Linked DNA regions of Homo sapiens: all the other regions are linked to region 1. The links come from fine-mapping of genetic effects on gene expression. A gene starts in region 1. Each other region holds a variant in brackets. All regions are shown on one strand. Distances are from middle to middle.

Region 1 (8,177 bases):
CTCTGGCTTCTGCTCAATTTTTTTTTTTTTTTTTTGAGACAAAGTCTTGCTCTGTCGCCCAGGCTGGAGTGCAGTGGCGCGATCTCGGCTCACTGCAACCTTCGCCTCCTGGGTTCAAGCGGTTCTCCTGCCTCAGCCTCCCGAGCAGCTGGGACCACAGGCACTCGCCACCACACCCAGCTAATTTTTGTATTTTTAGTACAGATGGGGTTTCACCATGTTGGCCAGGCTAGTCTCGAACTCCTGACCTCAAGTGATCTGCCCACATCAGTTTCCCAAAGTGCTGGGATTACAGGCACCTGGCCTTCTGCTCAATCTCTTATTGATGAGTATGACCACAGACATCACTCTGTCCTGTACTCAACACTCTTAGATCCAATTTCCCTCCTGAATTTTACCACTGGCCAAAGACAATACAGGCCAGGAGCAGTGGCTCGTGCCTGTAATCCCAGCACTTTGGGAGGTCGAGGCAGGTGGATCACCTGAGGTCAGGAGTTTGAGACCAGCCTGGCCAACATGGTGAAACCCCATCTCTACTAAAAATACAAAAATTAGTCGGGCATGGTGGTGGGCGCCTGTAATCCCAGCTACTCGGCAGGCTGAGGCAGGAGAATCGCTTGAACCCGGGAGGCAGAGGCTGCAGTGGGCCGAGATCACACCACTGCACTCTAGCCTGAGTGACAGAGCAAGACTCTGTCTCAAAAAATAATAATGAAATAAAATACAGTACAACATGCATCTCTCAAAGAACAGCACGGAGAGGTCTCAGTAAGTCAGACAGAACATCTCACAAACCAAGCACTAACTATGCATCAGGACCAGCGCCAAGCATCATGCAGATGCATCCCAACAGCTCAGCAAGTGAGGACTATTATTAGCCCTGTTTTTATCGATGAAAAACCCCGACTCATTGAGGTGCAGTCGTTTGTCAAATGGCACATCTAGCAACTGACCTTACTGGGATTCAAAAACAAGTTCTTCCTGATTCTGACGTCCAGGGAATAGGTCCCATTGAGTGCTTACTATGTACCAGGAACTGAGCATATACACATCTCAGTCGCTCCTCACAACCACCCTCGGAAAGTTACAGATGAGAATGGCAGGTCCAAGATCACACAGCAAAAGGCTGGGCACAGTGGCTCAGGCCTGTCATCCCAGCACTTTAGGGTCAGGAGGATCCCTTGAGCCTAGGAGTTCAAGATCATATAGCAAGTAAAGGAAGCAGCAGGACTTGGACCCCACGCAGTCCAATGGCTATGGTTCATGCTGATTGAGGGATTACTACCAGCCAGGTACTATGGTCTGTTTTTCAATGTCTCAGTTAATGCTAACCAGAATCCTTTAAGTACTGGTATTCTCCCCCAAGTGCTACAGACCCTACTGAATTCAATTTCCTCTCTCCACAATCTTAAAAGCCCATCTCCAGCACTGACTTTCCGAATAGTGAAAATTATAATAGTGATTTTAAAGACAGCAGCTCCCAAAACTCAAGGGATTACCACATACCAGACTCCATGTGCTAAGCCCTTAGAAGACCTGTATCCAAATCCCAATTTTACCACGTCCTAATCCTGACTCTGGACAAGTAGCTTAACCTTTCTGACCTCACTTCCCTCAACTGCACAATAAGAATGGTAAGGCCGGGTACAGTAACTCACACCTGTAGTCCCAGCACTTTGGGAGGCCGAAGCAGGAGGATCTCTGGAGCCCAGGATTTTGAGGCCAGCCTGGGCAATATAGCGAGACCCTGTCACTGTTAAAAAAAAAAAAAAAAAAAAAAAAACTGGGCGTGGTGGCTCACGCCTGTAATCACAGCACTTTGGGAGGCTGAGGCGGGTGGATCACCTGAGGTCAGGAGTTCGAGACCAGCCTGGCCAATATGGTGAAACCCCATCTCTACTAAAAATACAAAAATTAGCCAGGCATGGTGGTGTATGCCTGTAATCCAAGCTACTCAGTAGGCTAAGGTGGGAGAATCGCTTCAACCCGGGGCGGGGGGGGGAGAGGTTGCAGTGAGCCAAGATTACGCCACTTCACTCCAGCCTGGGCAACAGAGCAAGACTCAGTCTCAAAAAAAAAAAAAAAAAAAGGAAAGGTGGCTGGGCGCAGTGGCTCATGCCTGTAATCCCAACGCTTTGGGAGGCCAAGGCAGTGGATCACAAGGTCAGGAGTTTGAGACCAGCCTGGCCAACATGGCGAAACTCCGCCTCTACTAAAAATACAAAAAATTAGCTGGGCATGGTGGCAGGCACCTGTAATCCCAGCTACTCGGGAGGCTGAGGCAGGAGAATCACTTGAACCCAGGAGGCAGAGGTTGCAGTGAGCCGAAACTGTACCACTACACTCCAGCCTGGGCAACAGAGTGAGACTCCATCTCAAAAAAAAAAAAAAAAGTAAGATTACCAATTCTTGGCCAGCACCTTGGGAGGCTGAGGCAGGTGGATAACCTGAGGTCAGGAATTCAAGACCAGCCTGGCCAACATAGTGAAACCCCTCTCTACTAAAAATACAAAAATTAGCCAGGCGTGGTGGTGGGCACCTGTAATCCTAGCTACTCAGGAGGCTGAGGCAGGAGAATTGCTTAAGCCCGGGAGGCAGAGGTTGCAGTGATCCAAGATCGCACCACTGCACTCCAGCCTGGGCAACAGAGCGAGACCTTGTCTCAAATAAATAAATAAATAAATAAATAAATAAATAAATAAATAAATAATAAAAATAAAAAAACACCATCTTAAAAAAAAAAAAAGAGGACCCTTTTTTTTTTTTGAGATGAAGTCCCACTCTGTCGCCCAGGCTGGAGTGCAGTGGCGTGATCTCGTCTCACTGCAACCTCTGCCTCCCAGGTTCAAGCAATTATCCTGCCTCAGCCTCCCAAGTAGCTGGGATTACAGGCCCCCACCACCATGCCCGGCTAATTTTCTGTAGTTTTAGTAGAGACGGGGTTTCACCGTGTTAGCCAGGATGGTCTCTATCTCCTGACCTCGTGATCCGCCCGTCTCGGCCTCCCAAAGTGCTAGGATTACAGGCGTGAGCCACCACGCCCAGCCAAGGACCCATTCTTAAAGGTGTTACAAGGATTAAACGAGTTAATAAACAGAGTCCTTAGAACAAAGATGCACGGCAGGTGGTTAAGTGCGATGTTAAGTGTGCATCAAATAAAACAAATCTTCAGTAAGCTAGGGAAACAGTGGGACAGTCACTGACTTAATGCTAGTTTTATACAAAGTGTGAGCTGGGAACAAGTATAAGGACAACTTAATGGGGGTCCATGGGATCTGACAACAGGGAATCACACAGTACAGGTTCTGAACAGTATCCCTATTCAAAGGGAATACGTAGTATTCCTTTTCAATTATCTTTCCATTTCAGTGTACAATGTAATGGGCTGTTCAGTTTCCATTGTATTTTACCTGAACTTTTCCTTCCTCTCATGGCCAGCAATGCTAGTTTTCCATTGAAGACAGCAATGCGCCGGGCACGGTGGCTCACACCTGTAATCCCAGCACTTTGGGAGGCAGAGGCGGGCAGATCACCTGAAGTCAGAAGTTCGAGACCAGCCTGACCAACATGCAGAAACCCCGTCTCTACTAAAATACAAAAAAAATTAGCCGGGCGTGGTGGCGCATGCCTGTAATCCCAGCTACTCGGAAGGTTGAGGCAGGAGAATCCCTTGAACCCAGGAAGCGGAGGTTGCGGTGAGACGAAATTGCACCATTGCACTCCAGCCTGGGCAACAAGAGCGAAACTCCGTCTCAAAGAAAAAAAAAAGAAGAAGACAGCAATGCAAATTTGCCTTCTCAAATTAACTTACTGGGGAAAAAAATGCACTAGTCATTATCAAGAAAAAGAAAAAAACTAGTACTTCAGGACTCAGCAAAATTGGTCAAATAGTAAGTGACAGGATGTCGATTTCCCCGGCTCCAATTCTAAGTTTTTCCTATTGCTGTCTCTGAGCTTTCTCCCCCAGCTTCCCTGGAATTCCCAGCTACACCAATGACTCTCAGAATCATTATCATTATAGTCCCAATCCACGAGCTCTCACTGTGCCAGCCCCTCTGCTTAAAATCTTTACACACACAGATTTCATCAGAATCCTCAAGACGACCCTATGATATTGGGACTATCTGCTCTCATTGTACAGATGAGAAAAAACGGGGTTCAAGGAAGCGAAGACACAGGCCCCACTGCCGCACAGTGGAGCGGGACTTGAACCAAAATTCGACGGCTTCCAAACCCAACAATTTTTCATACTAAGCGCTCAAACATCAATACTAATAATAATAGTATAGTAACGAAGTGAGCGTTATGCGGAGGCGCTGAGCTAAGGCATCCAACGTACACGACCTGACTTCTCACTCCCATTTATAAAGCCGGTGATACAGTCGGATTCTAACCCCCATTCCACAGGGGAGGAAACTGAGGCTCAAAGAAACAAATCGTAAGTCCGAAGCCGTACAACGGAGCCCGAACTGAGTCCAGACACCCGGACGCCACCCGTCCCTACCGCAACCGGCCCAGTCCCACCACCCCCGGCCCGCGCCTCACCTGGCCCACCGGGCCCGCGCCCACTCGCGCCGCCCGCCCTCCCTCCCGGCGGCGCCAACTGTCAGACACTCCTCCCCCGGCCCGGGCTGCCCGCCCCGGAAGCATCCTCTCACCGCCGGAAGCTGAACTGACTCGTCCGCGGCCGCTCTACCCCAACAGGCCGCCACCAGCGAGAGTGCGGCCATAACCATCACGTGACCGCCCACCGACACCAGCGAGAGTGCAGTCGTAACCGTCACGTGACCGCCCACCGTCGGCCCGGCGCTCCCCTCCGCCCGAAGCTAGCAAGCGGCGCGGCCAATGAGAAAGGCGCATGCCTGGCCCCCGCCGGCCTGCAGTCTAGCCGTAGTGCGCCTGCGCGCGGCTAGGAGGGGCCGTCAGGCGGGGATACAGCCTGGAAGGTGCGTGTGGGGCTGGGTCTCGGAGTGGGAGACGTGGAGTGCAGGTACTGTGCGATCTGGGGGCGCGGCGCCTCGGCTACCCTCCTCGTGTTGTCTTCCACGCTATAATGCATGGAATATAATATATATTATATGGAATATAATATATGGAATATAATATATATAATTATAGCGTTGTCTTCCACGCTATAATTTATGTCGTCCTCGGTCTCTTTATGTCACCATTCCTCTCCTTCTGTCTCATCCCACTTAAATCCTCACAACTCCTTCTGTCGCCATCACCCTCTTTAAATCCTCACAACTCCTCTTGTTGTCATCAACGCCCTTAACTCGCTTTCGTTCCCTGTAAGCCCTCTTTGCCACCATAGGTCGTAATCGCTCCCTTTAAATTCGTCATCGCCATATGTTACCTGCATCCTGCTTTTGTTGCCATTTCTCCTTTATAAAATCCTCATTTCTCTTTAAACCCTCATCATACCCCCAAGTCACCTTCGCATGGCTACTGTCCCCATCGCTCTTCTTAAATCGCGCTAATGCAACTCTTACGTCATCATTACCCCTTGTGTCTTTGTCCCTCCCTTGGCATCACTGTTCCTCTGACCAGTCACCATCCACTCCTCATGCTTCCAGTTTTCCCCATAAGGAGCCACCCAGCCTTACAGTTATTTTTCTTCCCTCCGTGTCTTCGTCATTTCCCCGTGTCACATCTCACATAACATACGGGGTACTGCAGCCCATTACCTGGGGTGTGTCAGAATCCCAGCCCCACCACTACACCTCTGGATACCTTGACTGCCTTATGGCACCTTTCCAATCCCAGCTTCATCTGCAAAATGCACACGGGGACATCCACATCAGGGCTGAGTGTGACGATTCTGTGAGTTTATTCTTGTGGTAGGCTCAGCTTGACATGGTGTTTTTGGCTAATATTGTTATTAACCATGTCACCCTCGGCCGGGTGCGGTGGCTCATGCCTGTAATCCCAGCACTTTAGGAGGCCAAGGTGGGCGGATCACCTGATGTCGGGAGTTCGAGACCAGCCTGATCAACATGGAGAAACCCCGTCTCTACTAAAAATACAAAATTAGCCGGGCGTGGTGGTGCATGCCTATAATCCCAGCTACTCGGGAGGCTGAGGCAGGAGAATGGCTTGAACCGGGGAGGTGGAGGTTGCAGTGAGCCGAGATCGCGCCATTGCACTCCAGCCTGGGCAACAAGAGCGAGACTCCGTCTCAAAAAAAAATAATAATAATAGGCCAGGCGCGGTGGCTCACGCCTGTAATCCCAGCACTTTGGGAGGCCGAGGCGGGCGGATCACCTCAGGTCGGAAGTTCGAGACCAGCCTGACCAACATGGAGAAACCCCATCTCTATTAAAAATACAAAATTAGCCAGGCATGGTGGCACATGCCTGTAATCCCAGCTACTCGGGAGGCTGAGACAGGAGAATCGTTCGAATCTGAGAGGCGGAGGTTGCAGTGAGCCTAGATCGTGCCATTGCACTGTAGCCTGGGCAACAAGAGCGAGACTCCGTCTCAAAAAAAAAAAAAAAAAAAAAAACTGCATGATCTTGGGCAACTAACTTAACCTCCCAGCGCCTCAGTTACTGCATCTGCAATATGGGAATGAAAACACAAATTAATCATTCTGCACATAATTCTTAAGCATGTACTATATATGTGCCCAACACTGCTAGACACTGGGGATACCTCAATGAACAATACAGACAAAAATATCTCGGCCTGGCGCAATGGCTCACACCTGTAATCCAAGCACTTTGGGAGGTGAAGTGGGTGGATCACCTGAGACCAGGAGTTTGAGACCAGCCTGGACAACATGGTGAAGCCCCATCTCTACTAAAAATGCAAAAATTAGCCAGGCATGGTGGCGCGCCCCTAAAATCTGAGCAACTCGGGAGGCTGAGGTGAGAGGATTGCTTGAACCCAGGAGGCGGAGGCTGCAGTGAGTTGAGATCGCACCACTGCACTCCAGCCTGGGTGACAGAGTGAGACCCCATCTCAAAAAAAAAAAAAAAATCTGGCCTTATGGACTGTGTACTACACTCTAGTGGGGGTAAGAGGCAATGGGTAAATAGGTAAGTAGATTATTGGATGTATTAGAAGGGGCATGGGGAATGTGGGGTCAAGGTTATAGTTTTAAATAGGGTGGTCAGGGAAAGCTTTCTGAGAAGGTGACATTTGAAACAAATACTTGAAGGAGAAGAGAGAGTAGGGCTGGGCACGGTGGCTCACGCCTGTGATCACAGCACTTTGGGAGGCTGAGGAAGGTGGATCGCTGGAGCTCAGGAGTTTGAGATCAGCCTGGGCAACATAGCGAAACCCCATCTCTACAAAAATTAGCCAGGTATGGTGGTGTGCGCCTGTGGTCCCAGCTACTTGGGAGGCTGAGAGGTGGGGGGATCGCTTGAGCCTGGGAGTTCGAGGCTGCAGTGAGCCATGATTTTGCCAATACACTCCAGCCTGGGCAACAGACGGAGACCCTGTCTCAAAACAAAAAAACAAAACAAAACAAAAAAACGGCCAGGCGTAGTGGCTCATGCCTATAATCCCAGCACTTTGGGAGGCCAAGGCTGGCAGATCACCTGAGGTCAGGAGTTCGAGACCAGCCTGACTAACATGGTGAAACCTCGTCTCTACTAAAATTACAAAAAATTAGGCAGGCATAGTGGCAGACACCTGTAATCCCAGCTATTCAGGAGGCTGAGGCAGGAGAATCGCTTGAACCAGGGAGGCGGAGGTTGCAGTGAACTGAGATTGCGCCATTGCACTCCAGCCTGGGCGACAGCGAGATTCTGTCTCAAAAAAAGAGAGAGAGAAAGAAAGAGTGACATGGCCCTCTGGGGGAACAGCATGCTGGGCAAAGAGAACAGCAAAAGCAAAAGTCTTGCGGTAGGAGCAAGCTTGGAATATTTAAGGAATAGCAAGGAGGTCAGTGAGAGAGGAGAGGGGCAAGAGACGACATTGGAGGGGTGATGGGGCACATCGTGGAAGGCCTTGTGAGCCATGCAGAAGGCTGGCTTTTACTCCCAGTGAGGTGGGTGCCACAGGAGGATGTGGAGCCGAGGAGGGATGCGGTCCAGTGTGACATGAAGCCATCACCCTGAGCTGTGGCAGCTCCAGAACTTCTACCCAGGATCGACTAGTGAGAGGCAGCCTTATTGGAAAGAGAGCCAGAATCTTCTTCAGTCCGCACTCACATATCCTTTATGTTG
Region 2 (8,177 bases), 960 kb after region 1:
CCCAGCAACAGCCGCCACCACAGCAGCCTCCGCCACCACAGCCACCACCCCAGCAGCCACCGCCACCACCCAGCTACAGCCCTGCTCGGAACCCCCCAGGGGCCAGCACCTACAATAAGAACAGCAACATCCCTGGCTCAAGCGCCAATACCAGCACCCCCACCGTCAGCAGCTACAGCCCTCCACAGGTGAGAGAATGAGTGTGTGTTTGTATGTAGTGATCGCACGTGTGCTTTTGAACCTGAGCAAGTTAGGTGGAGGCGGATCTGGGGAAATCAACACATGCCCCAGCTACTGGTCTTCACTCTAACCTCTAGCCTGCCCTTCTTTCTCCCTGGCCGTGATCTTGACTCAGATGGACCCTACACATTCCCAGATCCCCTCCAAACCCAGGAGTAAATGTAGACCTTCCCAGAACCTGCTCTTCTCCCACCACCCTCAAGGGGATGGGCTGTAAGCACTGATCCCTCCAGCAAGTACATTATTCTTGGCTAGTGTCACTAACCTCACTAAATCCCCAAGAAAGCACTTGACTGGAGTCACCCCTTGCCCAGGCTGGCTGACCTCTTTGTCTTTTGGACATAATAACCAGGGCACTAAGGTTGCTGAGGACTTGCCCTCTGCACAGAGAGCTTCAATCCTGAGCAGCTCCAGGCTCAGTTCCCATTCTTGGAAAGCCAGTGCCCTGGCTCTGGTATGCACAGGCTCCTGTAAACCAGAGAGGTTTTCAGTTATCGCACAGCCATTTCCCAAGCACTTTCCTCATGCCGGGCCTGGAATCAGCTGCCAGGAGACCAATGGATGGTTCCCAGGCCCAGCTAACTAGAATATTTCTTAGAACAAGAGTTGGGCAGGCACAGATCCAAACCCCCAGCCCCACAACATCCTGTTTCTGTGAGCTTGGACAAATAGCTTCCCGTCTCTGGGCCTCATTTTCCTCATAAAGGTGTTAGTAGAAGTCCCTTCCAAGGTTTGTTGTGAGGAATGGGTGGCACTATAGCTCTGGGACTAGGCAGACCTGGGGTCAAGTCCTTTTTCCTTGGCCCAGAAATTTCATCTTGAGCCTCAGTTTCTTTCTCTTTAAAATGGGGCTAGTGGGACCTACCCCTAGGTTCTATATGGAGATTATATGATGTAATGATCCAACCTGTACTTGGGAAGCACTTAGTCAATTGCCACTACTGTTTCTCAGCAGATCTTCCAGTAACAACTACCACCACCTGTTGAGTACCCAGTGGTTTATACACACAAGCTTATTGGATACCCAGGGCAAGCTAAAGGAGTTGTTCTTGTTCTATTGTGATTCTCATTTTATAAAAAAGAAAACTGAGATTTCAAGAAGTGCCGTGTACCTTGCTCCCTGGGGGTCTCAGAGCTGGGGTTAGAGTCCACATCACAGCCCTGGGGCTTGCCCTTCATCCTGCCCTACCATGGCATGGAGCTGGCTCTCCTCCTTCTCAGCCCACAAACAATGTCCACTAGGCAAGGGAAGGGCCCCTGTGGGCCAACCACTTAAAAAGGCCCTTTTTCCATCCCAGCATTTCACATCTGCAGATTTCCTCTATTTCACAGAGCTTTGGCTTTTTTCCCTCCACTTTCCAGCCGAGTTACAGCCAGCCACCCTACAACCAGGGAGGTTACAGCCAGGGCTACACAGCCCCACCGCCTCCACCTCCACCACCACCTGCCTACAACTATGGGAGCTACGGCGGTTACAACCCGGCCCCCTATACCCCACCGCCACCCCCCACTGCACAGACCTACCCTCAGCCCAGCTATAACCAGTATCAGCAGGTAGGTGCCAGACTGGGGGCCAACTGGATGGAGAGACTTCCATGGGCCCCTCCTGGGTGTGTATTCCCAGACTTAAGTCCCTGCTTATCCCTAAAAAGACAGCCTGCTGGCCTCGGCCTGGCGTTCATCTGGTGCAGCCATTCCATTTGGTCAACACTTCTGCACTGGTTGCTAGGTAATTGGTATCCTAGCCCCCTCCACAGTCTAGCAAGTGAAGGGGAAGGGCTGGCCTAAGTACCAGGGGCCTCAGAGTCCTCTTTCAGCACCATAGACAGGGGGCTCCAAATCCTGCTGCAGGTTGGTGCCCAGGCCCCCATACCTGTTACTAAATCTTTTGACTATGATATCTAGCTATACCCAAAAGGCACTGGGTTGACAAGCTGAGACCTGGGCTTCAGTCCCTAACTGCCTACCTGTGTGGTGTCAGGTCTTTCCAAGGTGCCTTGATTTCTCTGTCAGGGGACCTGTGTTCAACTGTTGTCACTGCAGCTGTCTCTGCCCTAGGTGAGGGTGGGGCTGGTGGGGAGGCTAAATGTGTGGTGGATGCAGGACAACTTGGTGTTCTTGGTTTCTTTCCCCAGTATGCCCAGCAGTGGAACCAGTACTATCAGAACCAGGGCCAGTGGCCGCCATACTACGGGAACTACGACTACGGGAGCTACTCCGGGAACACACAGGGTGGCACAAGTACACAGTAGCCAGTGTGACCCAGAGGCTCCCGGAGGCCCCTGCCGGCTTCCTCCACCAGCGCCTGCCTCGGCCCCTCCTCTGCCCCCGCCAGATCCCGTGGTGCTGGGGATGGGGTCATCCCAGGGCTGCCTCCCTCCAGCCCACTGCCTCCCCTCTGAGGGGCTTCCTTCCCCTCCATAGGGCCAGGCATTTTTTTCTGGATTCAAACAGGCAACAATGACCTTTTATTTTCTGTTTGTCCCCACCTCCCCAGCCTTCCACCTCCTGTTCTTCCTACCTTCTTCCTTTTTGACTAAATAATCCCCACCTCCCTTGATCATACAGTGAGGCTACAGTGACTGAGGGGAGAATCCCCTCCTGTTCACTCTCCCAACCCTGCTCCAGCCCCTCAGCTTCCCAGACCCTCATGCAGTTGGTTGTAAATTCTCCCAGGAGCTGTTTTACTGTCTACTTTTCAGGATTAAAAAAAAAATCAAAACTTAAAAAAAAAAAAGTTTAAAAAGCAAAATGGGGAGGGGGAGGAAGCAGTGACTTTTTTTTGGTAATTATGCGCTTTTTTTTAATTTTTAGAATTTGTCTTTTTACTGTGGGTGGGCTGTTGATATTTCATCAAGATAAGCATTTCTTTCCTGAGTTCAGGTGACTGAGGAAGAGCCACAAAACAAAACACAACAAAACCAAACCACAGAATCATCTTTAACCCAACTTTTTATACGATGCCCCAGTTCCCCATAACTTTGCACACAAGCTTCTGTGTTCAGTTGAATTGTAACTGCTTTTTGTATTTGGAGAGAGTGACTATTGAACTTGAAACCTTTTATTCCGGGCGTCTTGGTAGTTTCTGGTGGGATTCAGTGGGTGAGAGGGAAGAAGGGGAGGTTGGGGGGCTCCTTCCCTTCAGAACTTGAAGTTTCTCCCACTGCCTCCTCTCCAGTGGTCTCCCAGGTGCCAGACCCAAAAGCTTTTCCTACAGTGATACCCTTTATTTTTACTTCCCCTTGACTCATATGTTTTAACATGATTTTAACAAACTGCACTTATTAAGAAATGTGTTTGCCCTGTTTTGTTTGGTTTCGTTTTGTTTTCTTTGAATAAATGACATGGCACCTCCTAGCAGGAAGGAAGCAGGGTTGAAACCCTGAAGTGTTACTGCAGTTGGCCGTTAATTGGGGTGGGGGCCTCTTTAAAGGGAAATTATTTACTCATTCATTAAACAACTTAACTGAGGGATTCATGTGCCTGGCCCCGATTTTGGTGCTAAAAATGCACGCTTAAACAAGGGTCCCTGGTTTAAAATCCACTAGTTCATTTTTAAAGTGCTTCTCTTGTTCTCTACCTCTCACAGTCT[A/G]AAATCCCTCCAGGAGTTTTTGAGTAAAGGACATGGAACAGGCCTCTAGGTGGAGGGATGGGTGGGACTGATGGGGCAGAGACCAGGGCTGGTTTGTTTGGCATCATCACTGGGCATCCACAGACCACCTGCCTCAGGCCTGGCCTGTGTGCAGCACGGAGGACAGTTCCTGCCTGTTCTGTGTTTGGGGCTCATGGGGATTCCAGGAGCTTCATGTTTCAGCCAGTGTGTGTGAGCCACCTGCTGTGTTCTTCAGCTGTCCTGGACAGTGCTGGGGACATAGTATGGCCACGGCAGTCCTGGACCCCGTTCTCACAGAGCTCCCACTCCAGAGAGAACAAAGACCTGCCAGCACCAAGTGGTCAGCTGTGAGAGCCTGGGGTGGTGTGCAGGGAGGGCTTCCTGGAGGAGTGAGCCAGGGTAAAAGACTCCAGATTGCATCCCCATGGCCCATCTTCCCCTTCCTTAGCAACCTTATGTCTTCGTTCCCTCATACATGCTGTGTTCCTGGCTCCTTGTGAGAGACAATGCTGGGCCACAGGAGAAGCCAATTCAGCCCCAATCTTCCCTGGTGGGAGCTCAGAGCCTTGTGAAGGGGAGATGGGCAACAAAAACAAGGGAGGGAAACTGACTAGTCTCAGAATCTCGGGTAGGGCATCAGAACGTGAGAAGGAACCAAGGTTGGTGGCTAAAAGGGACCCTAGAATGCGCCAGAGAGGAGGTGGCAGGGCCTTTAGTCTGGAAAGTCCCCTTCCCTTCATGTCCATATGCTGGGCTACAGCGCCCTCTGCTGGCCTCTCCTGGTAATGCCTAGGAATCTGGGTTGGTAAATAGGGACCTCCTTGGCTTTCTTCCACAACTCCAGACCTCAAGGGAATGCAAATGGGGAAGCTCTTCCTCTGTTCTCAGCCAGTTTTTCTCACACGTCTCATCTCCAGTCCCTTGATGCCCACTCCCTTCAGAATAAAGGAGGTCAAGCCACTTACTATGGCTTATGAGGCCCTGCATGGCCTAGCACCTGGTAACATCGCTGGCGCCCTCTCTTTCTGCTCCCCCTTTGAATATCAAATCAGTGTTTATTTTGTTCTGAGGAGCCATAAGTCCTTTTTGGAACCCACAAATGATGCCATGAACCACTGCATTGGAGAATACAGAGGTACATGGAATTTTGCATAAAAATTCATGAGGTTCTCAAAACCTCCACAGCCCAATCATGGCTTTCAAGTTAGAGCTCCTTTCCTATGCCCTGACCGTAGTGAAGTGCTTGCAGCAACCAGAACCGTCCGTACGTGCCATCCTCCTCAAGACTCTTCCCTACCTTCCTCTTAACCCAGCTCCTACTCGTTCTTCAGGTCTTAGCTTGAGGGTACCCTCCCAGAAAGAAGGCTTCCTTGACCCTCCAGCCTGGGGTGGACAGCTCCCTCAGCCCTCTGGATCCATCAAAGCCCTGGCCACTGAGTGACATGTCTGTCTACTCTGCTGGTAACACCTAAATAGAGCCCCACCCATCCCATAGGGAAATAAGGACCAGAGTTGTCTTGTTTCACACCTGTAGATTTCCTCCAGGTCCTGGGAACACAAAATGGGAAGTTCTATCTCACTATCCATCTCATGCCAGCCAGAGACAGGGTATGATGACGGAAGTAAGCCAGGCTGGTGGCTCACGCGCGTAATCCCAGCATTTTGAGAGGCTGAAGCGGGAGGATTGCTTGAGGCCAGGAGTTGGGGACTAGCCTGGGCAACAAAGTGGGACCCCTGGCTCTACAAAAAAATTTTAAAAATTAGCCGGGCGCGGTTGTGCGCGCCTGTAGTCCCAAGTACTCCAAAGGCTGAGGCAGGAGGATCACTTGAGCACAGGAATGTGAGGTTACTTGAACTGTGATCGCGCCACTGCATTCGTCTAGGCGACAAAGCGAGACCCTGTCTCAAAAAAAAAAAAAAAAAAAAGAGTCAAGGCTTAGTAATATTCCTGAATTCCTGAAGGAGTTAAGAAAGGAAAAGGACAAGCGGGGGTCTAAACGAGAGCACGAACCCTCAGCGTATGACGGCTCCAGGCTCCGGGGGAAAGTCCTTTAGCCATCCATCCCAAAATTAAGCACGCTGGGAGCTGGAGTCACAGCAGTGATAAAACGAACAATGATTCTGGTTCCTACTGACTGACAGGAGAGGTTTAAGGGTCTCTCACTCTCCGGGGAGCCCCTTTCCTTCCTGGCTGCGGAGGGCGGAGCCCGAGAGAGGCACGCATGCGCAATGCAACGTCTGCCTTAGGCCCGGAACTTCGGTGCCTGGGCGCAGCGGTGCACCCGGACCCGGAACATTCTCAGGCGAAAGTGTCTCTTGCGTGCGTGGGCCGGAGGTTAGTGTGCGGGGCCCGCCGGGCGGTTGAAAAGTCCGAGAGAATCAGGATGGAGGCCGTGGCGACGGCGACGGCGGCGAAGGAACCCGATAAGGGTGAGATCTTGGTCACGCGCAGGCGGCGGGTGGGTGCGGTTGCGGTGTCTCTAGGAAATGATTCCCCCAGGAACGCGAAGTAGGACTCGTTTTAGGGGGACACCCACCCCCCTCAGCTTTACCGGTCCTCTTCACTACTTTGCCCAGATTATTCCCTCCCTTGTCGCGGGCTGACCTTCTTTTCCTCCATTCCTTCCCCCCGAAATTAACCTCTTCCCAGTTCCAGACCAATCCTTTCCATGTCCCTAATTCATTTCCTTACCAGGCTAACTCTCAAATTAACAGAAACCTCTCTACCCCGGCCTAATTCCTGCATTGCCTCAGACCAGCCCTTCTCAAATTACCTCCTTCCCTGTACCAAGCTGAGCCTTCCCTTGCTCTCTAGACGAATCCTCCTACCTTTCCAGGCTAAACTTCTACCTGCCTCATGCAAACTTATCCCAATCTAACGATTCCTTCATTTCATTGTAACTCCCGTTTCCCCCAAAGTCCGAAATCCAGCCAGGCTCCTTTCAAAGTCCTTACTCAATTTCTGTGCTTTCCCACAACCTTCAAAGTAATCCGACGTCGGGTGAGGTGTGATTGGAAGCGTGGCTCCAACACCACTGGCCAAGAATTGGTAATTGTGGAAGCCAGATGGAGATGATTGGTATATGGAGGTAGGGGGAGAATTGTCGTTGTACTTTCTACTTTTGTGTATGTTTGAAATTTTCTAAAAATAAAAAATTTAACCTAAAAAAAGTCTTAAGGCCGGGTGCAGTGGCTCCCGCTTGTAATCCCAACACTTTGGGAGGCCAAGGCAGGAGAGTTGCTTGAGCCCAAGAGTTTGAGACCAGCCTGGGCAAGAGAGAGAAACCTGATCTCTATAAACATTTAAAAATTAGCCAGGCCTGGTGGCTAGGGAGTAGCTAGGACAAGCTACTCAGGAGACTAAGGTGGGAGTGTCACTCGAATCCTTTGAGATTGCAGTGACCTAAGATTATTACACCACTGCACTCCAGCCTCTGCAGCAGAGTGAGACTTGAGCCCAGGAGTTTGAGACCAGCACTGGCAACATAGCCAGACCCCATCTCTACAAAAAATTTAAAAATTAAGGCCGGGCCCGGTGGCTTACACCTGTAATCGCAGCACTTTGGAAGGCGGAGGCAGGAAGATCACCTCAGGTCAGGAGTTGGAGACCAGCCTAGCCAACATAGCGAAACCCCATCTCTACTAAAAATACAAATATTAGCCAGGCGTCGTGGTATGTGCCTGTAATCCCAGCTACTCGGGAGGCTGAGGCACCAACTGGAATCACTTGAACCCGGGAGGCGGAGGTTGCAGTGAGCAGAGATCGCACCACTGTACTCCAGTCTGGGTAACAGAGCAAAACTCTGTCTCAAAAAAAAAAAAATTAGCCAGGTTTGATGGTGCATTCCTGTGGTCCCGGCTACTCAGGAGTCTGAGGCGGGAGGATCACTTGAGCCCAGGAGGTCAAAGCTGCAGTGAGCTGTGTTTGCACTATTGCATTGCAGTCTGAGCAACAGAGCAAGACCCTGTTTCAAAAAAAAGAAAAAAAATTTGTCTCTTGGCCCCATCTGTCTCCTTCAGAGAGTCATGTATACTTGGTCTTCATTTCCTCGTCTCCTGCTCACGACTGTCTGACTTTTCTCCTAAGAAACTGCTCTGATTAGGGTCTGCACTGACTTCCCCCATGTTGTTCAATTCAGTCCCCCCATTCAGGTTTTTGTTTGTTTGTTTGTTTTTTGAGAGAGTCTCACTCTGTTGCCCAGGCTGGAGTGCAGTGGCATGATCTCAGCTCACTGCAACCTCCACCTCCCAGGTTCAAGTGATTCCCGTGCCTCAGCCTCCCAAGTAGCTGGGATCACAGGTGCCCGCCACTATGCCTGTCTAA
Region 3 (8,177 bases), 68 kb before region 1:
GACTCACGCCTGTAATCCCAGCACTTTGGGAGGCTGGGGGGGGGGGGGGTGGGCGGGGGGCGATCACAAGGTCAGGAGTTCAAGACCAGCCTGGCCAAGATGGTGAAACCCTGTCTCTACTAAAAATACAAAAATTAGCCAGGCGTGGTGGTAGGCGCCTGTAATCCCAGCTACTCGGGAGGCTGAGGCAGAGAATCGCTTGAACCCGGGAGGCGGCGGTTGTAGTGAGACAAGATCACACCACTGCACTCCAGCCTGGGTGACAGAGCAAGACTCCGTCTCAAAAAAAAAAAAAAAAGTCCATACATGGCTAGTAGCTACCATTCTGGAGTGCAATTCTATAGAATTCCTGCTAATTAAGCACCGGGAGCTTAAAGGCAGGAGGCAGGGATGTGACTCTCACAGGCCCAAGAGGAGCCAGATCATCCCAGTGCGGCTGGAAGCTCCCATGCTATACCCCATCTCTCCCGCACCCCAACGCAGCTTACCTGGGGAATTGGAGCAGGACTCAGGCCCAAACTCACACCTCTAGTCAACTCAAATCCTGACTCTACCACTTCCAGGCTACACAGGTCACTTCTCTGAACCTCAGCTTCCGCATCTGTAAAATGGAATCTTTTTTTTTTTTTTTTTTTTTTTTTTTTTTTTTTTTTTTGAGACAGAGTCTCACTCTGTCGCCAGGCTGGAGTGCAGTAGTGCGATCTTGGCTCACTGCAACCTCTGCTTCCCAGGTTCAAGCAATTCTCCTGTCTCAACCTCCCGAATAGCTAGGATTATAGGCACCCACCACCACACCTGGCTAATTTTTGTATTTTTAGTACAGACAGGGTTTCACCATCTTGGCCAGGCTGGTACTGAACTCCTGACCTCGTGATCCACCCTCCTCGGCCTCCCAAAGTGCTGGGATTACAGGTGTGAACCACCGTGCCCAGCCTGTAGAATGGAATCTTAACACCAATCTGCCCAAGCACATGTTTATGTTATCTCAAAAGATAATTTTTGCAGGCCAGGTGCAGTGATTCACGCCTGTAATCCCAGCACTTTGGGAGGCTGAGGGATGTGGATCACTGGAGCCCAAAAGTTCAAGATCAGCCTGAGCAAAATAGGGAGACTCCCATCTCTACTGAAAATTGTTTTAAAAAAATTAGCCAGGTATGATGGTGCATGCCTGTAGTCCCAGCTACTCAGAAGGCTGAGGTGGGAGGACCACTTGAGCCAGTGAGGTCAAGGCTGCAATCAGCCATGATGGTGCCACTGCATTCCAGCCTGGGTGACAGAGCCAGACCCTGTCTCAAAAAAATAATGAAAAATTTAAAAAGATGATTTTTCTGATAACCATGGGTTGTCCTGGGGACCCAATGAGATGGCTTCACACACAGCTGGGGACAGGGCCAGTGCTTGAAAAATAGGTGGCAATTACATAAAGGACTCTGACATCAGGGGCCGTCCTGAGCCTGTCAGAGCCATGCAGTGGCAGCTAATGTTACTGCTGTCACTACTTGGTTCTAAAGGAATCATCCCAATAATTTCCAACATGCCCCTACTAACTTTTTGAAAATATCATCTAAATGAAAACACACAGCTAAAAAGAGTCAATGCCCTGCAGACACCTCCTCCCACCCGCCAAGGCCTTCGGACACCAGTTTGAGAAGCTGGGCTCTAGGGCGCCCTGTCTCCAAAGCAGAATATGGTCTGCTTTCTCCATCCCTGGCTGCCACCTGAATCCAGCCAGCTCTCTCCCACACAGGTCCCTCCCCACCCACCTGTGTCCCTTCTCTTTGGGGATAAAGCCCTGGATCCCCATCATAGCCCAGGCCCTGAGCCCTGCCACCCTGCTCTCTCCCCCTCACCCACTCCCCCGGCTCCAGCTACATGGGCCTGCTGTTCCACCAGCACATCCAGATATCGCCTTCCTTGCGGCCTTTACCTGGCTGCACCCCGTCCAGCCCACTTCCTCGGGCTCTCACATCACAGGGGCTCCTCAGCAGCCTTCCCAAGCCCCTCTCCCACCCAGTCCAGCTAGATCTCTGTTCCCTCCTTCAGCCACACCAAGCACTCACAGGCCAATGCAACCTCTCTGCCACCTCCGATCGCATCCAGAACTACACGTGGCACATAGAAGTGATTCAATCAATATTTGGAGACAGATGGAACACACAAATGACCAAGAACAGCCAAAGGCTGGCTCCTGAGGCTGTTCAGCAATCAGGCCCCTAGGGCAGTGGGGAGGGGGTGCCTCCCATCCTCATCTCTTCCCCCTGGGCCCCCCTTGGGAGGGGCCAAGGTCATGGTATTGGGGGTGGAGAGAAGCAGCCACACCCCACATCCCAAGCAGGCATGGAATGGAGTCATTTCTGGATTACTGAGGCCTACTTTGTGCCAGCTCTGTCTAGGAGAAGAGAAAGCAGAAAAGAAATCATGATGACAACAGTGACAACTCCAGTCATAGCAGGCAGGGCAAGAAGATGAGGCTGTCTTCAAAAGGCAGCTTCGCCGACAGAGCAGGGTTCAACCATCATGCCTATTACTGACTTCCAGCAAATCCAATAACCTCTCTATGCCCGTTTCCTCCCCTGTACAACGGGGACGATCGGGACAGCGAGCTGCCAGGCTGTGGTGAGGATGAGTGAGAGCAGACACCTTAAGCTCTGCAGCAGTGCCCAGCACTGAGAGGCGAACTACTCACGAGAATGACCCCAATATTCTATGTGGCTTCCTGGGCCTCAGTTTCCTATCTACGAGATGGGAGTGCTAACACTGCCCACCTCCCAGGCTGCTGTGCAGGTTTGTAGAGCTAATATGCAGCGTCTGGTTGGGCAGGAGTACAGTGGTGGGAGTGATTCACATTCCTGTCTGGAGCCCTCCCATCAGCTAACAGGCCCTACCACTCTCTCCCAAGGACCAACAACGAGCCTGTGCCCACTGCCCTGCAGAGCCCCTTCTGTGCTCTCAGGTGCCCTCAGTCCTGTCTGGCAATCACCAGGAGTAGCATCAGCCCAAATTCATCCCGCCGCCTCCTCAGGAGGCCTGTGCTTTCCAACGCAGCAGCTCCGTGCATCCTCCCCACCGCCCCACTCAGCAGGAAGGTTCCCGTTTACAGCTGAGCAAAATGCACCTTAGGGAGAAGAAATAAGGCCCCAGAGCTCCACAGCCACCGAGAGGGGTGCCAAGAGCAGGGTTCTCACCCACGTCAGCTACCCCCGGGACCAGGTCACTCAGCAGCCCCAGCTGGGTAAGTGTACACCAAAAACCCACCAGACCATGAAGAACTTGAAGCCAGGCTGGAGAAGAGAAC[C/T]GGGGAGCGGCAACTGCCCCAGCCCATTCGGAAAGGGCCCACAAAGTGGCAAACCGAGGAAGACTTGGGTTTCTGGCCTCACCCTTAGAAACAACATCTGCGAACGAGCTTCTCCAGCAGGACGGCTGGGCTGAAGAAACTCCTGCTGGGACCTCTGACATGCAGTCTCCTCTTGGCCGACCCGGCTTGCTGTCCCTCGCTCGGCACAGTCAGAGCACCTGGGCCCTGCTGTGGGTGCCGAGTTGGCAGTGGGTCCTGCCCCAAGGGGGCCAGGCTGAGCTCCCACCCAGCGCCCCTCCCACACTCACTCCCTCCCTCCTGGTCCTGCTCCCAGGCTGTCTCCCCCAGCTGGGCCTCTCGCTGCTTGGCTGGCTGTCCAGAAGAGCCTGCCATGGAACCACCCCACCGTGCGGCCCGGAGGCCTGTGGTTGAGGGCCTTCCGCTGAGAGCTCTGGGAAGCTGAAGAGAGGCCCGGGGAGGGGTGACCCTGGGTCCTCCAGGGGCTTGGAGCTCAAGTCTGAAAGACACTCCTTTCCATCCCAACCCATCCCGGGGGCCTTCTGGAGACCCTAGTGGTTTGTTCTGAGGGGTTCTGCTCCTTCTAGGAAGATACCCTGGAACACACCTCAAAAAAAAAAAAAAAAGCCAGAGCGCCTGCTCCCGCACCAAGCCTTAGGGGTGAGCCCATGGGTGGGATCAGAAGTCACACTCACCAGGGGCTACTGAGCTGTGGTGGGGGAATCTCTGGAAGCCCAGATTCATAGCCTGTCCCCAACACTTCCTGGTTGGGGGACTCAGCACAAGCTACAGAGGCTCTCCAGGCTTCAGTTCTCACCACTTGTAAAGCGGGAATCAGAGAAGATTCCTCCTGGGTCTAATGGGTCTTCACCCAGATCCTCCCATGGCTCCCTCACAGCACTCCAGTCCCTACCCACACGTCACCTCCTCAGGGAGGTCCTCCCTGATCACCCAGCTATAGTGGAGAAACATGCCCACACTCTCAACCTGGCCCTCATTTATTTTGCCTTCGTAATATCAACCACACCTGAGCCCAACCAGAGACCTGGGTGCTGGGCGCCAGTCACAAGCCCTGGTCTTTCCAATTCCAGAGGAGCACTGGGAATGGCGCAGGCCTACAGGCCCACGGCAGCGTGGACGCAGGGTCAGCGGGTGCTGTCTGTATCAGGTGTGACTGCTGCCCTGCGTTGCTATTCAGTATTAGTCCGGCTGGTTGGGTTGGGGAGGAATGGGCAGAGAAATCAGCCCAATGAGCCTCCCCTCCTCTTTCCCTAAAAGTAACAGCCACGGGCTCTGGAGAACACGGTGTGAAAACCACAGGAGGGAGGCAACCCTCAGGCCTTTGCTGGCTGTAAGGCAGTGATGCTACTGGAGGGGAAGTGGGAGGCCTGTGAAACGCCCTGCTCCGCTCAGTCAAATCTACCCACGCCCCCAGGCAGGAGCCTGTGACCGGCTCCTGGGTCACCTGCTAACACCCTGAATCTGACCAGGCTGTTCCTGCTGAAATTCCAAACTCCTTCACAGACAGTCCACAAGGCTCCCAGTGAAAGGGCCCTGCCTGCCCCGCAGCCCCAGGACTCATCTCCTCCCTGCTCCCTCGCTCTGCCAAGCCACACAGGCCTCCGTGAGGCTTGTCCCTGCACCTCACCAAGCTCTGTCCTCCCTTCAGACCTTTGCACTGTGGTTCCCTCCACCTGGAGGGCTGTTCCTTCTCCTCCCATCCCACATGACTGCCTCACCTTGCCAAACTGGGATCAGCTCAGAGGCCCTCCCCACAGCCGCATGCATCTAAAGAAGTGCCCAGTCTGTCACCTGATTTGAATTCGCTGCCTAGCTCCTCCCCCTCTAACCGGCTCCTTGCTTATTAACCTGTTTCGGGTTGGTCTTGCTTAGCCCCACAAGGATAGGGACTTTGGCAAGTACACTGCTGTATTCCCAGTACTGATGCAACGCTGGCACATACGAGGTGTTCAGTAAATGGTGGCGGATGAGTGAAACCTTTTCCTCGGCTCCACAATACCCTTAGGATCCATCCTCACCTCTCACCCAGGCCCACAGGCCAGTGCAGCACAGCCCCTGCCAACCCCTGCAGGCACTTCTGCTGCTCCCCCTGCCCAGGCCCAGCCTTCCTGCCACTCCCAGAGCTGTGAGCTGTGGTGGGCTGGGAACCAGGGGCAGTGGCATGCACCTACGGTCCCAGCTACTCAGGAGACTGAGGCAGGAGGATCACTTGAGCCCAGGAGTTCAAGACTAGCCTGAGCAACATAGCGAGACTCCCGTTTCCACAAAAAATTTAAAAATTAGCTAGGCATGGTGGCATGCACCTGTAGTCCCAGCTACTCAAGAGGATGAGGTGGAAGGATCACTAAAGCCTAGGAGGTCAAGCCTGCAGTGAGCTGTGATCACACCACTGCACTCCAGCCTGGGTGACAGAGGGAGGCCCTGTCTCAAAAGAAAAAAAAAAACAAGCACAGAGCCTGACCTCTGAAAAGACTCCAGTGTGTCTACCTTGGAGGCGCTCAGGGCTGCAAAGCCACTGCGTGGAAGAGGAGTGGGCCCGGGAGCTGCCCTTGTCAGTTCTGACTTGATTGCATGTCTCCCCCGACCTCTGTTTCTGCATCTGTAAAACTGAGATGCTAATTTCAGCCCTGATCTCCTCCTAGTGCTCTCTGACACGGTTCTGTGAACTGGCAAAGGCCTTCAAAGTCCCGGCAGAAATACTAAGAATTACAATTGCTAAGACAGACCAACAGCTCACCATGTGTCGGGCACTGTTCTTAGTGAGGAGACATTTCCGGTAGGCTTATTGTATGCCAGAACAGTTATGAATGCTTCCCACAAATTAATCCACTCAGCCTTCACAATAATCCTATCAGGTGGGAATTATCATCATCCCCATGGCACCGATGATGAAATGAGCTCACAAGGGTTGGGGAGCCTGCTCAAGGTCACACAGCCATGGAGTGGCACGGCTGGATTTGAACCCTGTGCTCTCACTCGCTTCCATACACCTCTTTACAGAGGCTGGAAACCAGAACATTGAAGTTCTGGATCCTAGCTGGGCCAGGCTGGGGAGCTGGATCCCGGAATGCTCGAGGGGACCAAAAGTAGGGGGTGGGGGAGGCTGGATGCCTCCGTTCCATAACATAATCATGACTGCCAACCAAGACTTACACAGTACCAGGCACCATTCTAGGAGCTTCTCGTGGATTAATTCATTTAATCCTCACAACAGCCCAAGGTGGACGTCCTTCTGAGACCACTGTATGGGAGTGAACAGTGTGGTCCAAGGTCGCAGAGCTAGAACCGACTTCACCGTCCTGCTGCTAGCTAACGCAGGTCCCTGGTAGCTGTGTCACCCCCTGCATGGCTCTCTTGCTGTCTTCTTCTCCCAGCACACACCTGCCCAGGGTTAAAGGATGCCTTGCCTCCACTCTGAGGAGGGACCAAGAAATGCTGGACTGGCTGTAGGCAGAGATGCTCAGGGCAGCCTGAGGCTCAGGGGTAAGAGGAAGGAAAGACATAGGACAGTCACCTCTATAGGTAGAGGACAGAGGACAGAGGTGACTCTATCCTATGTCTTTCCTTCCTTTCACCCAGCCTGGAACCTGGTGAGCAAGGAATGCATGGCACTAGGGGCTCAGTGACCTGGGTTCAAATCCTACCCTGGCACCCATAGGGTCTGATAAGATGCGGTGGAAGGCAATTCTTCCTCTGAACTTCAATTTCGGACTCTGCAAAAAAGGACACAAATACCATATAAAGCCCAAAGCACAGGGCTGGGCAGAGTATATGCTCACAGACAAAAGCCACTCCTCCAGTTTCTCCTTGACAAGACGATCTGAGGCCAAGGTTGGCCAAGGGCTCACATCACACCTCTCCCACTTCAGCTATGAGACCTCTGGGAAATCTTTGCACTTCACAGTGAGTGAAATGATTCCTCATCTGTAAAATGGTATCACACTTCTAACTAGCTCGTAGCTCTCCATAAAATAGGCCTAACCACAGGTATGTTTTGAGACTTAAGTGAGATCACATGTACAAAAGCCCTGTCACACGCCTGGCATGGGGTGAATGCTATAAACACTGGGCATCCACTAGCTCTGGAAATGATCTGCCTCTCTGAGATGCTGTTTTCTCATCTAAAAGGGAGAGCATAACAACAGCGCCTACCGCTCTAGAATTCAAGTATTCAGCAAGTTTATCTATATGAAGCATTCCAAACAGTGTGTGGCCCACAGAATGCACTCAGTTACTGTCAGCCATCAATTTCATGATTACTGTTTTCACTGCCACTGTTAGCCCCATCAGGCAAACCCTCTAAAAGCTGGCAGGAGAGGACCAGAGGAACAAACCCCTAGTGGAGAAAGATTCTACAGAGTCGCCGCTGCCTCACAGACTGTGGGACCTTTCTCTCCAGGAACCACGAGCCACGGAAGCCAGTCAGCTTGGAAGTCACTGCTGCGGACTAGGGGCAACCATCTGCCCCCTCTGACCACATCACCAGCCCAGGTCTGCTGGGTCAATCAGGGACTGCAGCCAGTCCTCTGGGAACTCCAGACCCAGAGCAAAGGCTACAGGGCAAGCCAAGGTCATGATCTGGCCTAGGGAGCAGGGACACTGGCCACAGACCTCTGGGGCTGGCTGCTCCCAGCACCAGCCCACAGACCACAATAAGACACCAGATCCATGGGGGATCTGACTGTCCCAAGCCCTTCAGAGCAGCCTTCCTCCCTGGGCCAGGCTGGGCCAGGGGCACCCCCACTCCAAGTCCCCTTGGCCTATGCAAAGAGGAACAGCTGGGAAAACAGCTCCCGGCCTCACTGCAAGGCCAACTGTTACTGCCTTGGTGGGGAGTGTAAAC

What was found. PIP is the estimated chance that this variant, and not a neighbour inherited with it, causes the effect.
Region 2: its variant is fine-mapped to the expression of PLD3 in adrenal gland (GTEx, PIP 0.92).
Region 3: its variant is fine-mapped to the expression of PLD3 in whole blood (TOPMed, PIP above 0.99).

The regions. Positions count from the first base shown.
Region 1 is chr19:40,343,779-40,351,955 of GRCh38, forward strand. It overlaps PLD3 (phospholipase D family member 3), which reads left to right and starts at 4,917. Exons shown (of 13, transcript NM_012268.4): 1 at 4,917-4,990. C19orf47 (chromosome 19 open reading frame 47) reads right to left here and starts at 4,619. Exons shown (of 9, transcript NM_001256441.2): 1 at 4,546-4,619. RefSeq lists a silencer at 4,494-4,583 and an enhancer at 4,574-4,863.
Region 2 is chr19:41,304,074-41,312,250 of GRCh38, forward strand. It overlaps HNRNPUL1 (heterogeneous nuclear ribonucleoprotein U like 1), which reads left to right. Exons shown (of 15, transcript NM_007040.6): 13 at 1-188; 14 at 1,603-1,794; 15 at 2,376-3,714. The coding sequence ends at 2,492. CCDC97 (coiled-coil domain containing 97) reads left to right here and starts at 6,099. Exons shown (of 5, transcript NM_052848.3): 1 at 6,099-6,283. The coding sequence starts at 6,238. It overlaps LOC105372401 (a long non-coding RNA gene), which reads right to left and starts at 5,976. Exons shown (of 2, transcript XR_935968.4): 1 at 5,865-5,976; 2 at 3,466-5,752. RefSeq lists enhancers at 4,692-4,871, 6,145-6,434. The variant A/G (reference allele first, on the strand shown) is at 3,833.
Region 3 is chr19:40,275,730-40,283,906 of GRCh38, forward strand. The region is part of intron 1 of AKT2 (AKT serine/threonine kinase 2); the gene reads right to left. MIR641 (microRNA 641) reads right to left here and starts at 6,912; the gene lies at 6,814-6,912. RefSeq lists enhancers at 4,810-4,859, 4,900-5,019. The variant C/T (reference allele first, on the strand shown) is at 3,296.